Linked DNA regions of Homo sapiens: region 2 is linked to region 1. The links come from fine-mapping of genetic effects on gene expression. A gene starts in region 1. The other region holds a variant in brackets. All regions are shown on one strand. Distances are between the middles of the regions. Region 1 holds the start of FAM76A (family with sequence similarity 76 member A). Region 2 has its middle 9.9 kb from the start of GMEB1.

Evidence for each region. PIP is the estimated chance that this variant, and not a neighbour inherited with it, causes the effect.
Region 2: its variant is fine-mapped to the expression of FAM76A in CD4 T cells (Kasela 2017, PIP 0.95).

The regions. Positions count from the first base shown.
Region 1 is chr1:27,723,770-27,729,145 of GRCh38, forward strand. It overlaps FAM76A (family with sequence similarity 76 member A), which reads left to right and starts at 2,192. Exons shown (of 9, transcript NM_152660.3): 1 at 2,192-2,392; 2 at 3,703-3,767. The coding sequence starts at 2,312. RefSeq lists silencers at 1,536-2,178, 2,017-2,716.
Region 2 is chr1:28,656,208-28,661,583 of GRCh38, forward strand. No RefSeq gene overlaps it. Among named protein-coding and RNA genes, the nearest start is that of GMEB1, 9.9 kb to the right of the region's middle. The variant C/CA (reference allele first, on the strand shown) is at 2,733.

The sequences.
Region 1 (5,376 bases):
AGGAGAATCACCTGAACCCCTGGGAGGTGGAGGTTGCAGTGAGCCAAGATTGCGCCACTGCACTCCAGTCTGGGAGACAGAGCCAGACTCTGTCTCAAAAAAAAAAAAAAAAAAAAAGTATATTCACCATGTTGAACAACCGTTACCTCTATCTAGTTCCAAAACATTTTCATCACTCCAAAAGCCCCTTACCCATTAAACAATTTCCCCACATTTTCCTCCACGTACTGTTTTTATTTGTATTTGCATATATATTTTGAGACAGGGTCTCACTCTGTCACCTAGGCTGGAGTGCAGTGGCATAATCATGGCTCAGGGCAGCCTCGACTGTCCAGGCTCAAGGGATCCTCCCGCCTCAGCCGCCTGAGTAGCTGGAACCACAGGCTCGTGCCACCACACCCGGCTAATTTTTAAAAAAGTTTTTTTGTAGAAATGGGGTCCCACTGTGTTGCACAGGCTGGTCTTTTTTTTTTTTTTTTTGAGACGGAGTCTTGCCCCGTAGTCCAGGCTGGAATTCAGTGGCATGATCTTGGCTCACTGCAACCTCTGCCTCCCAGGTTCAAGCAATTCTCTTGTCTCAGCCTCCCGAGTAGCTGGGACTACAGGCGCCTGCCACCACGCCCGGGTAATTTTTGTATTTTAGTAGAGACAGGGTTTGACCTTGTTGGTCAGGCTGGTCTGGAACTCCTGACCTCAGGTGATCCTCGGGTGATTCACCCGCCTCGGCCTCCCAAAGTGCTGGGATTACAGGCGTGAGCCACCGCGTCCGGCCGACCCAGGCTGGTCTTAAATCCCAAGGCTCAAGTGATCCTCTGGCCTCAGCCTCCCAAAGTGCTGGGATTACAGTTGTGAGCCATCCCGCCCCGACTCATGTACTGGTTTTGATTCTCACAATGACCTCATTGTACAATTGAGAAAAACGAGGCCGTGAGAAGTTCAGTGATAGATCCAAGGTCATGTAGTTAGTTGTGGAACAGTGATTTGGAAACTTTGCTTTCTGATCCTAATGATTAATGCACATCTTTGGGGGATCCTACAAGGAAGCAGCCAGATTTGGGTTCAGAGAGAGTAAATTTTTTTTGTTGAGGCAGGGAAATAGAAGCCATTAAGTCAGTTTTTAATTGTAAAAAGCGCACGTTGAGGTAAAACTGCAATTAGTCCTGTACGGGTGGTTGGCAGAGCCAAGAGTAACCTATGCCCAAGAGCAGCTACAAGGCAGGACTTGGATAGGTCAGCAGTGCAGGAAGCTTTGCCAACACCTCAAGAACAAGAAGTCTGTCATTCCTTGGGCAGCTCCTATACATGCCAAGCTGGAGCCAAAGAGAGGCAGGGGAGCCCGGAGGGCGTGGCTTGCCTTCCGGAAGTCAGGCCTCGTCAGGAATCACCAGGTGGTTGCTTGCGAGAGAAGCTGGGGGTGAAACCGGAGAAAACAAAGTAGGAAGCAGGTCTGGGCCAATTGCAGCCCACTCTGATGGGGGCCTGCAGGCCACCGGACGCCTGAATATCTGTCCAATCCCTCCTGGAAGGACTGCCATCTCTTTAGTCCCTCTTCCGCAGCATAGGGGTGCTCTCTCTGGGGCTCTCCTTTTCTCTCCTAAGGCCCACAGCCCCACAGTTCCCTATTTAGGTGTCTTAAATTGAGGACACACTTCTAAATTGTCCCTCAGAGTCTCGTCTCCTCCTTTGAGCGAGGCTGGGCGGGCTCCTCCTGCTCCGATTATGAGGAACTTCTTTCCCAAGCTCCCCACCTTCTTTGGGCTTGGACGGCTGCAGAGTTCCAGTTAACTGTGCGCCGCCTTCGTTCCAATTGTACCCCTCGTGCTCCCAGAGGGCAGCTCCATGGAAACCAAAACATCACAAATCCCCGAAGGTATCGCGAGAAGCGCAGATGCGCCTGAGGCCGTGGAGAGGCGGAGCGAGGGCGGGAACGCTGAGCAAGTAGGGCGGAGCCTAAGCTCTTCCGAGGTCCCGGCCGGGAGCCTGTCCCCTCCAGGTGGCGCCCCCGCGTGACTGCGCTTTACATAATCGCGGCCTGGAGCGTCACAGTGGCGTACTCCAGGCCAGACCGAATCAGAGTGGGCGAAAGCTCCGTGTTCCGCCCCTTCCCACTTGATCGACGTCAAAGCCCACCAGTGAGCGGGCGTCTAGAGTCGCCGTGCCCGCCCCAGCCCGCCCGGGTCCGCCCCGACCCGCCTGCGCCCGCCCGCCTGCCGCAGCCAGCAGCCTGCAGCCGCCGCCGGGTTGTGCCTCAGACTGTCAGATAAATCGGCGGGCCGGGCCGGCGGGTCGGTGAGCGCGGCCCGGGCCGGACATGGCGGCGCTCTACGCCTGCACCAAGTGCCACCAGCGCTTCCCCTTCGAGGCGCTGTCTCAGGGGCAGCAGCTGTGCAAGGTGCGCGGGCTGGGGCGGCGGCCGGGAACTGGGGACGCAGGAGGCGCGGCCCGGAGCTCCAGATTCTGTGGGGACGCCCGGCGGGGTCCCCGGAGCAGGGTGTGGCAGGCCCGCCAGGCTGAGGAGCCGCACCCACCCCGCTGGGGGCCGGCGGGGCACGTGCGGGAGCCGGGACCCGGTCCAGGCTCCCGCGGCCGGCGTGTCCGGGTGCTTAGCAACCGTGGGGATTGTTCTCGGACCCCGTGAGGTCGGGGGAGGGACAGCGGGTCCCCTGCTTGCCCTGACTGGTCGCCTTCGGGATCCCTTTGCGCTGCCTCCCCCGCCGCCGCGGTCTCCCTGGTGGGGACCTCCTGCCCCTCCTGGGACTGAACTCCAAAGTTGGGTGCTGCCTTGGAGGAATGTGTCGAACTCGGGCTCCTCACGGGCACTTTTCGACCAGTTTCAGAATCGGAGGTAGCAAGGCTTGATTTTTTTTTTTTTTTTAAGCATCTCACTTTTCGGCCAGTCTCAGAATCGGAGGCAGCAAGGCTTTATGTTTTAAAAAAGCCCCACAGTCAGGCTCACAGATCCGAGGGATCACTTCTCAGCATCCAGTTGGTGGTCTTCGGTCTTCCCTGACTAGCTGCTGATCAGTTTTTGCTCCTGAAGGTCCAACTTCTCTTTTTCTTTTAAGTTGCTTTATCCCACTTTTACTTTTTAAGTGACTAGAGGTGCTGTGAGGCAACAGTTAAAAAGTCACCAAACTGGCTGAAGAATAATGTTGAGGTTATCCAATAATCCAGTTTGTGTCTCTGATTTGGATAACTCATAATTGTCACTTTTGCCTCAGATGGTCATGACTTTCCATTTGCCAGTTTTTATATACCAGGTCTGGGGGAATGCAAGTGCTTGAGTGCCCTTTTTGGCCTCAAAATATGTATATATGATTTTAAGGAAGTTATGTATATATAAATAATAATTTTAATCCAGCACTTTCATTTCACAAGTAAACCGCAAAATCACACAGTGGCAGAAGAACCAGGCCTGGAATTCAGGGCTTCTGATTCCCAGTCTGGGACTTGTTCATATATATGTTTGTTTTACAATTTATGGCTAGTTCCATATAATCCATATAAGTTCTTACTTAACTCCCACATCAACAGTAGGGAAGTGATGCCAGTATTACAGAGGAGAAAAATAAGGCCCAGAAAGTTTAAGTGACTCACTCAAGCATAGTAGCTATGCTAGAAATAGTACCCAGGTCGGCTTCCTACTGAAGGCTGTTTCCATTTGTGACTGCCTTTTAAAATTATATCCTCATTTCATTTCAGGAATGTCGGATTGCACACCCTGTTGTGAAGTGCACCTACTGCAGGACTGAGTACCAGCAGGAGAGGTAGAGTTTTGTTGACCATGAAAGATATTAATAGGCTTTTTTCCTCTTAAAATCTGTAATTGATTGCATTTCATGTACAGATGCTATAATCAGTTGCATTGTAAAATACAGATCTGTAATCAATCACATTATATACAGACTATAATTGCTAAATATTTAGGTCTATGATCCATCTTGAGTTAATTCATGTGTGGGGTGAGATATACAATGAAGGGTATATAATACATGTATTGTTTCCTAGTTATTATCCATTGATTGCTTAAATTTTTTTTTTTTTTTTTTTTTTTTTGAGATGGAGTCTCACTCTGTCACCCAGGCTGGAATGAAGTGGTATGATCTCAGCTCACTGCAACCCTTCCCTCCCAGGTTCAAGCGATTCTTATGCCTCAGCCTCCCAAGTAGCTGAGATTACAGGTGCCTGCCACCATGTCCGGCTAGTTTTTTTGTATTTTTAGTAGACGGGGTTTCACCATCTTGGCCAGGTTGGTCTTGAACTCCTGACCTCGTGATCCACCCGCCTCAGCCTCACAAAGTGCTGGGATTACAGGCGTGAGCCACCACGCCCAGCCTGCTTAAATTTTTAAAGTTCTTTTTAAGACCCTTGATCATTTTATATTGTGATTATAATCTTTTTGTCAAGAAGAAACCAATCCCACAACAGTAAAACATGAGCCTCATGTTTCAATATGTACATACACAGAGATTGAAGAATTTATAAGCCCAAAGAAGATACTTTTGGAAATGTGACAATCCTGATAAGAGTTTGCTAGCTCTAGTCACATTTGAAACTCACTTGCCATTACACTTTCCTTGGGCAAATCTCTTTTTTTGTTTGAAACAGAGTCTCTCTCTCCCAGTCAGGTTGGGGTGCAGTGGAGCCGTCATGGCTCACTGCAGCCTGGACCTCCCGGGCCCAAGTGATCCTCCCACCTCAGCCTACCAAGTAACTGGGACCACAGGTGTGTGCCACCACGCCCAGCTAATTTTTTTATTTTTGTAGAGATAAGATTTTGCCATGTTACCCAGGCTGGTCTCTTACTCATGGGCCCAAGTGATTCCTTCCTCGTTAGCCTCTCAAGATGTTGGAATTACAGGCGTGAGCCACCACGCCTGGGCAAATCTCATTTTTAAAAGTGTGAAATGGGCTGGGTACGGTGGCTCATGCCTGTAAACCCAACACTTTGGGAGGCTGAGGCAGGTGTATCACCTGAGGTCAGAAGTTCGAGACCAGCCTGGCTAACATGACGAAACCCAGTCTCTACTAAAAATACAAAAAAATTACCTGGGTGTGGTGGCACACACCTGTAGTCCCAGCTACTTGGGGGGCTGAGGCAGGAGAATTGCTTGAACCCAGGAGGTGGAGGTTGCGGTGAGCTGAGATTGCGCCACTGCACTCCAGCCTGGGTGACGGGGGGAAACTCTGTCTCAAAAAAAAAAAAAAGTGTGAAATGCAGGTATGAGTGGTCAGACATCTTTAGGGGGCATTTCCATAGCAACAAAGTGATTTTTTTTTGGTACCAAGTTTGATTCTTGTGGAACTTCTGTGAGTGTAGGTGATCCTGCCTTGAGGAGAGTGGGATCTATTTGTTAATTCATCCATTAGACCTAG
Region 2 (5,376 bases), 930 kb after region 1:
CGGGTCACTTGATAGATGGGCCAGAGCAACACACCCAAATGAGGAATGCGTTGCCCCCAAAATCCAAATAGGCCCAGTAGGCACTGTGTCTGTTTCTTGGTTGTAGGAGGTGCCAAATGCAGCAATTTATCCTTCACTTTAGAAAGAATATCTCGACAGGCAAGGCCCTACACCACTGAACCCCTAGAAATTTCACTGAGGTAGAGGTTCCCTGAATTTTAGTCAGATTTACTTCCCATTCCCCGGCATGCAAATCTCTCACCAGTAAGTCCAGTGTGTTTGTTACATCTCTCTCACTGGGTCTAATCAGCATAATGATGTCATTAATGTAATGGACCAGTGTGATATCTTATGGAAGGGAAAAGTGATCAAGATCTCTGCGAACAAGATTATGACACAAAGCTGGATATACCAGCTTTGTGAGAGTTGATATACCCCTGAGGTAAGATAGTGAAAGTATATTGCCGGCCTTGCAAGCTGAAGGCGAATTGCCTCTCGTGGGCCTTGTGGACAGGAATGGAGAAAAAGGCATTTGCCAAATCAGTAGCTGCATAACAGGTACCAGGAGATGTGTTAATTTGCTCAAGCAATAAAGCCACATCTGGTTCAGCAGCTGCAACTGGAGTCACCACTTGGTTAAGCTTACAATAATCCACTGTCATTCTCCAAGATCCGCCTGCCTTCTTCTCCAAATAGGAGAGTTGAACGAGGATGTGGTGGGAACCACCACCTCTTTGTCTTTCAAGTCCTTTATGGTGACACTAATCTCTGCAAAATCTCCAGGGATGCAATATTGTTTTGTTTTGTTTTGAGACGGACTTTTGCTCTTGTTGCCCAGGCTGGAGTGCAGTGATGGAGTCTCACCTCACTGCAACCTCTGCCTCCCGGAATCAAGTGGTTCTCCTGCCTCAGCCTCCCGAATAGCTGGGATTACAGGCAACTGCCACCACGCCTGGCTAATTTTTTGTATTTTTAGTAGAGACAAGGTTTCATCATGTTGGCCAGGCTGGTCTTGAACTCCTGACCTCAGATGATCTGCCCGCCTCAGCCTCCCAAAATGCTGGACTTACAGGTGTGAACCACTGTGCCTGGCCCAATATTGTTTTTTATTTACTGTTTTTCTAGGCAGAGGCAGCTCTAATGGCTTCCATTTGGCCTTTCCCACCACAATAGCCCTCACCCTACTGCTCAGGGAGCCATTGTGAGGATTCTGCCAGCTACTAAGTATGTCTATGCCAATTATGCATTCTGGCACTGGGGAAATGACCACAGGATGAGTACAGGGACCCACTGGACCCACTGTAAGTTGGACCTGAGCTAAAACTCCAGTAATTACCTGACCTCCATAAGTCCCTACTCTAACTGGAGGACCACAGTGATGTTTTGGGTCCCCTGGAATAAATGTCAGCTAAGAGCCAGCATCCAGTACTCCCTCAAAGGTCTAATTATTCCCCTTTCCCTAATGCACAATTAACTTAGCCCAGAGGTCTCCGTGGGGAAATATGGGAGAAAGATTAGCAGTATAAATTGTCCATAGTGTAGTGGGGTCGTTCTTCAAGGGGACCTGGCCTCCCCTTCATTCAAGGAGTTCTGGGTCTGTAAACTGGCTCAAGTCTGGAAATTGCTTGAGAGACCATGATTCTCTATTTCTTTTTGATACAGAGTTTCGCTCTTGTTGCCCAGGCTGGAGTGCAAAAGCACGATCTCAGCTCACCACAACCTCCGCCTCCCAGGTTCAAGCGATTCTCCTGCCTCAGCCTCCCAAGTAGCTGGGATTACAGGCATGTGCCACCACGCCTGGCTAATTTTGTATTTTTAGCAGGGATGGGGTTTCTGCATGTTGGTCAGGCTGGTTTCGAACTCCCAACCTCAGGTGATCTGCCTGCCTTGGCCTCCCAAAGTGCTGAGATTACAGGCGTGAGCCACCACGCCTGGCCGAGTCTCTGTTTTATAATTCAAATTAGTCTTTTGTCCACTCAACCTGGAAATTTTCTGTTTATACAAATTAAGAATGCAGTAGGTGCTGGGCATGGTGGCTCACACCTGTAATCTCAGCACTTTGGGAGGCCAAGGCAGCAGATCATATGAGGTAAGGAGTTTGAAACCAGTCTCTACTACTGGCAACATGGCAAAATGCTGTCTCTACAAAAATAAAAAAAAAATTGGGCCAGGGACAGTGGCTCAGGCCTGTAATCCCAGCACCTTGGGAGGTCAAGGCAGGTGGATCACCTGAGGTCAGGAGTTTGAGACCAGCCTGGCCAACATGCGAAACCTGGTCTCTACTAAAAATTTACAAAAATTAGCCAGGTGGGCTGGGTGCAATGGCTCATGCCTATAACCCCAGCATCTTGGGAGGCCGAGGCAGGTGGATCACCTGAGGTCAGGAGTTCAAGACCAGCCTGGCCGATATGGCGAAACCCCGCCTCTACTAAAACTACAAAAAATTAGCCGGGCATGGTGGCTGGCACCTATAATCCCAACTATTCGGGAGGCTGAGACAGGAGAATCGCTTGAACCCGGGAGGTGTAGGTTGCAGTGAGCCAAGATTGTGCCATTGTACTCCAGCCTGGGTGACAACAACAAAACTCCATCTCAAAAAAAAAAAAAAAAAAATTGGGCTGGGCATAGTGGCTCATGCCTGTAATCACAGCACTTTGAGAGGCTGAGGCGGGTGAATCACTTGAGGCCAGGAGTTCAAGACCAGCCTGGCTGACAAGAACAAAACTCCATCT[C/CA]AAAAAAAAAAAAAAAAAATTGGGCTGGGCCTAGTGGCTCATGCCTGTAATCACAGCACTTTGGGAGGCTGAGGCGGGTGAATCACTTGAGGCCAGGAGTTCAAGACCAGCCTGGACAACATGGTAAAACCCCGTCTCTACAAAAAATGCAAAAGCTAGCTGGACATGGTGGCATGGGCCTGTAGTCCCAGCCTGTAAAAACCTTTGTTGAACCTGGGAGGCAGAGGTTGCAGTGAGCCGAGATTGCGCCACTGCACTCCAGCCTGGGCGATAGAGCAAGACTCCCTCTCAAAAAAAAAAAAAAGAAAAAAAATTAACTGGACTTGGTGGCACATGCCTGTAATCCCAGCTACTCGGGAGGCTGAGGCGGGAGAATTACTTGAACCCAGAAGGGGGAGGATGCAGTAACCTGAGATCATACCACTGCACTCCAACTTGGGCAACAGAGCAAGACTCTGTCTCAAAAGAAAAAAAAAAGAATTCAGTAGGCTTTCTATCAACGAGTCAGACTATTCCGATTGCTGCTTTGCCTCTGCTGTCCATTACGGTAACTACATCTGCTTTGCCTTTGATGGTTGAGTGTTGCCACTTGGCTCCTGCCACCTTGGGATTTAATTATTCCCACTGCGTTTAAGTTTTCCAATTGAGTGAGTACAGTTCCCACTGTACGATCTGGCATACAGAGAGGAGCAATCACAGAGCTCTTCAAGGACACGGGTGCTCCCTTCAGAAATCTGTTTCACAAGGTTATACCCTATGGTGAAGGATAGGTCTTCTGGACCCTCCCAGTGGGGATGAGTAGGTCTAAAGTGACTAATCCACTCTAGCGTTCCAATTTCCCTAAGCCTTTGGATCCCTTCCTCTACATTAAACCAAGGGAGATTGGAATGCTACTAAAAATACAAAAAGGTGGGCTTGGTGATGTGCGCCTGTAATTCCAGCTACTAGGGAAGCTGAGGCACGAGAATCTCTTGAACCTGGGAGGCAGAGGCTACAGTGAGCGGAGGTCACATCACTGCACTCCAGCCTGGGCGACAGAATGAAGACCCTCTCAAAAAAACCAAAAAAGGCCGGGCATGGTGGCTCACGCCCGTAATCCCAGCACTTTGGGAGGCCGAGGCAGGCGGATCACGAGGTCAGGAGTTCAAGACCAGACTAACCAACATGGTGAAACCCCGTCTCTACTAGAAATACAAAAATTAGCTGGGTGTGGTGGCGCGTGCCTGTAATCCCAGCTACTCAGGAGGCTGAGGCAGAACTGCTTGAACCCAGAAGGCGGAGGTTGCAACTGAGCAACACAGTGAAACTCTGTCACAAAAAAAAAAAAAAAAAAAAAAAATTAGCTGGGCGTGGTGGTGTGCACCTATAGTCCCCACTACTTGGGAGGCTGAGGCAGGAGAAATGCGGGAACCTGGGAGGCAGAGATTGTAGTGAGCTGACAGTGCGTCACTGCACTCCAGCCTGGGCAACAGAGTGAGACTTTTTTTTGTCTCAAAAAAAAGACAAAAAGGAAAAAAATCGACACAGGGCAGGGTGCGGTGGCTCACACCTGTAATCCCTGCACTTTGGGAGGCCGAGGTGGGTATATCACCTGAGGTCAGGAGTTCGAGACGAGCCTGGCCAACATGAGGATACCCTGAATCTACTAAAAATACAAAAAATTAGCTGGGCGTGGTGGTGCACGCCTGTAATCTCAGCTACTCAGGAGGCTGAGGCAGAAGAATCATTTGAACCCAGGAGGTGGAGGTTGTAGTGAGCTGAGATCGTGCCACTGCACTCTGGCCTGGGCAACAAGAGGAAAACTCCATCTCAAAAATAAATAAATAAATAAACAAAGAAACACAGAATAAACATGTGATCCAGCAATTCCTCTTCGGGGTATAGACGCAAAATAATTGAAACCAGGAACTTGAACAGATATTCGTACACCCTCGTTCATAGCATCATAGCAGCATTACTCACAATAGCCAAAAAGTATAAACAATTCAAATGTCCATCAAAGGATAAATGGATACACCAAATCAATGGATGTCTATACAATGGAAATATTATTTGGTCATAAAAAGGAATGAAGTACTGAAACATGCCATAGCATGAATTAACTTTGAACACATTATGCCAGGTTAAATAAACCAGACTCAAAAGGACAAATATTGTACAATACTACTTATAGGAAGCACTTAGCACAGTCAAATTCTGGCTAGGCACAGTGGCTCATGCCTGTAATCCCAGCACTCTGGGAGGCCGACGCGGGTAGATCACTTGAGGTCATGAGCTTGAGACCAGCCTGGACAACATGGCGAAACAACGCCTCTACTAAAAATACAAAAATTTGCTGGGTGTGGTGGTGCACGCCAGCAGTCCTACTACTCTGGAGTAGCTATTCTGGAGGCTGAAATGGGAGAATTGCTTGAACCTGGGAGGCGGAGGTTGCAGTGAGCCAAGATTGCACCACTGCACTGTGGCCTGGGTGACAGAGCGAGACTCTGTCTCAAAAAAAATGTTAAAATGGTAAACTTTATGTAATGTCTATTTTATCACAATAAAAAATTAAAAGTTAATTTAAAAATGAAATAATTTAAAAGGAAAGATATTGAAGAGTAAGATTTTGGGTGTGCCTGTGATATCCCTGACACTGAGCTGG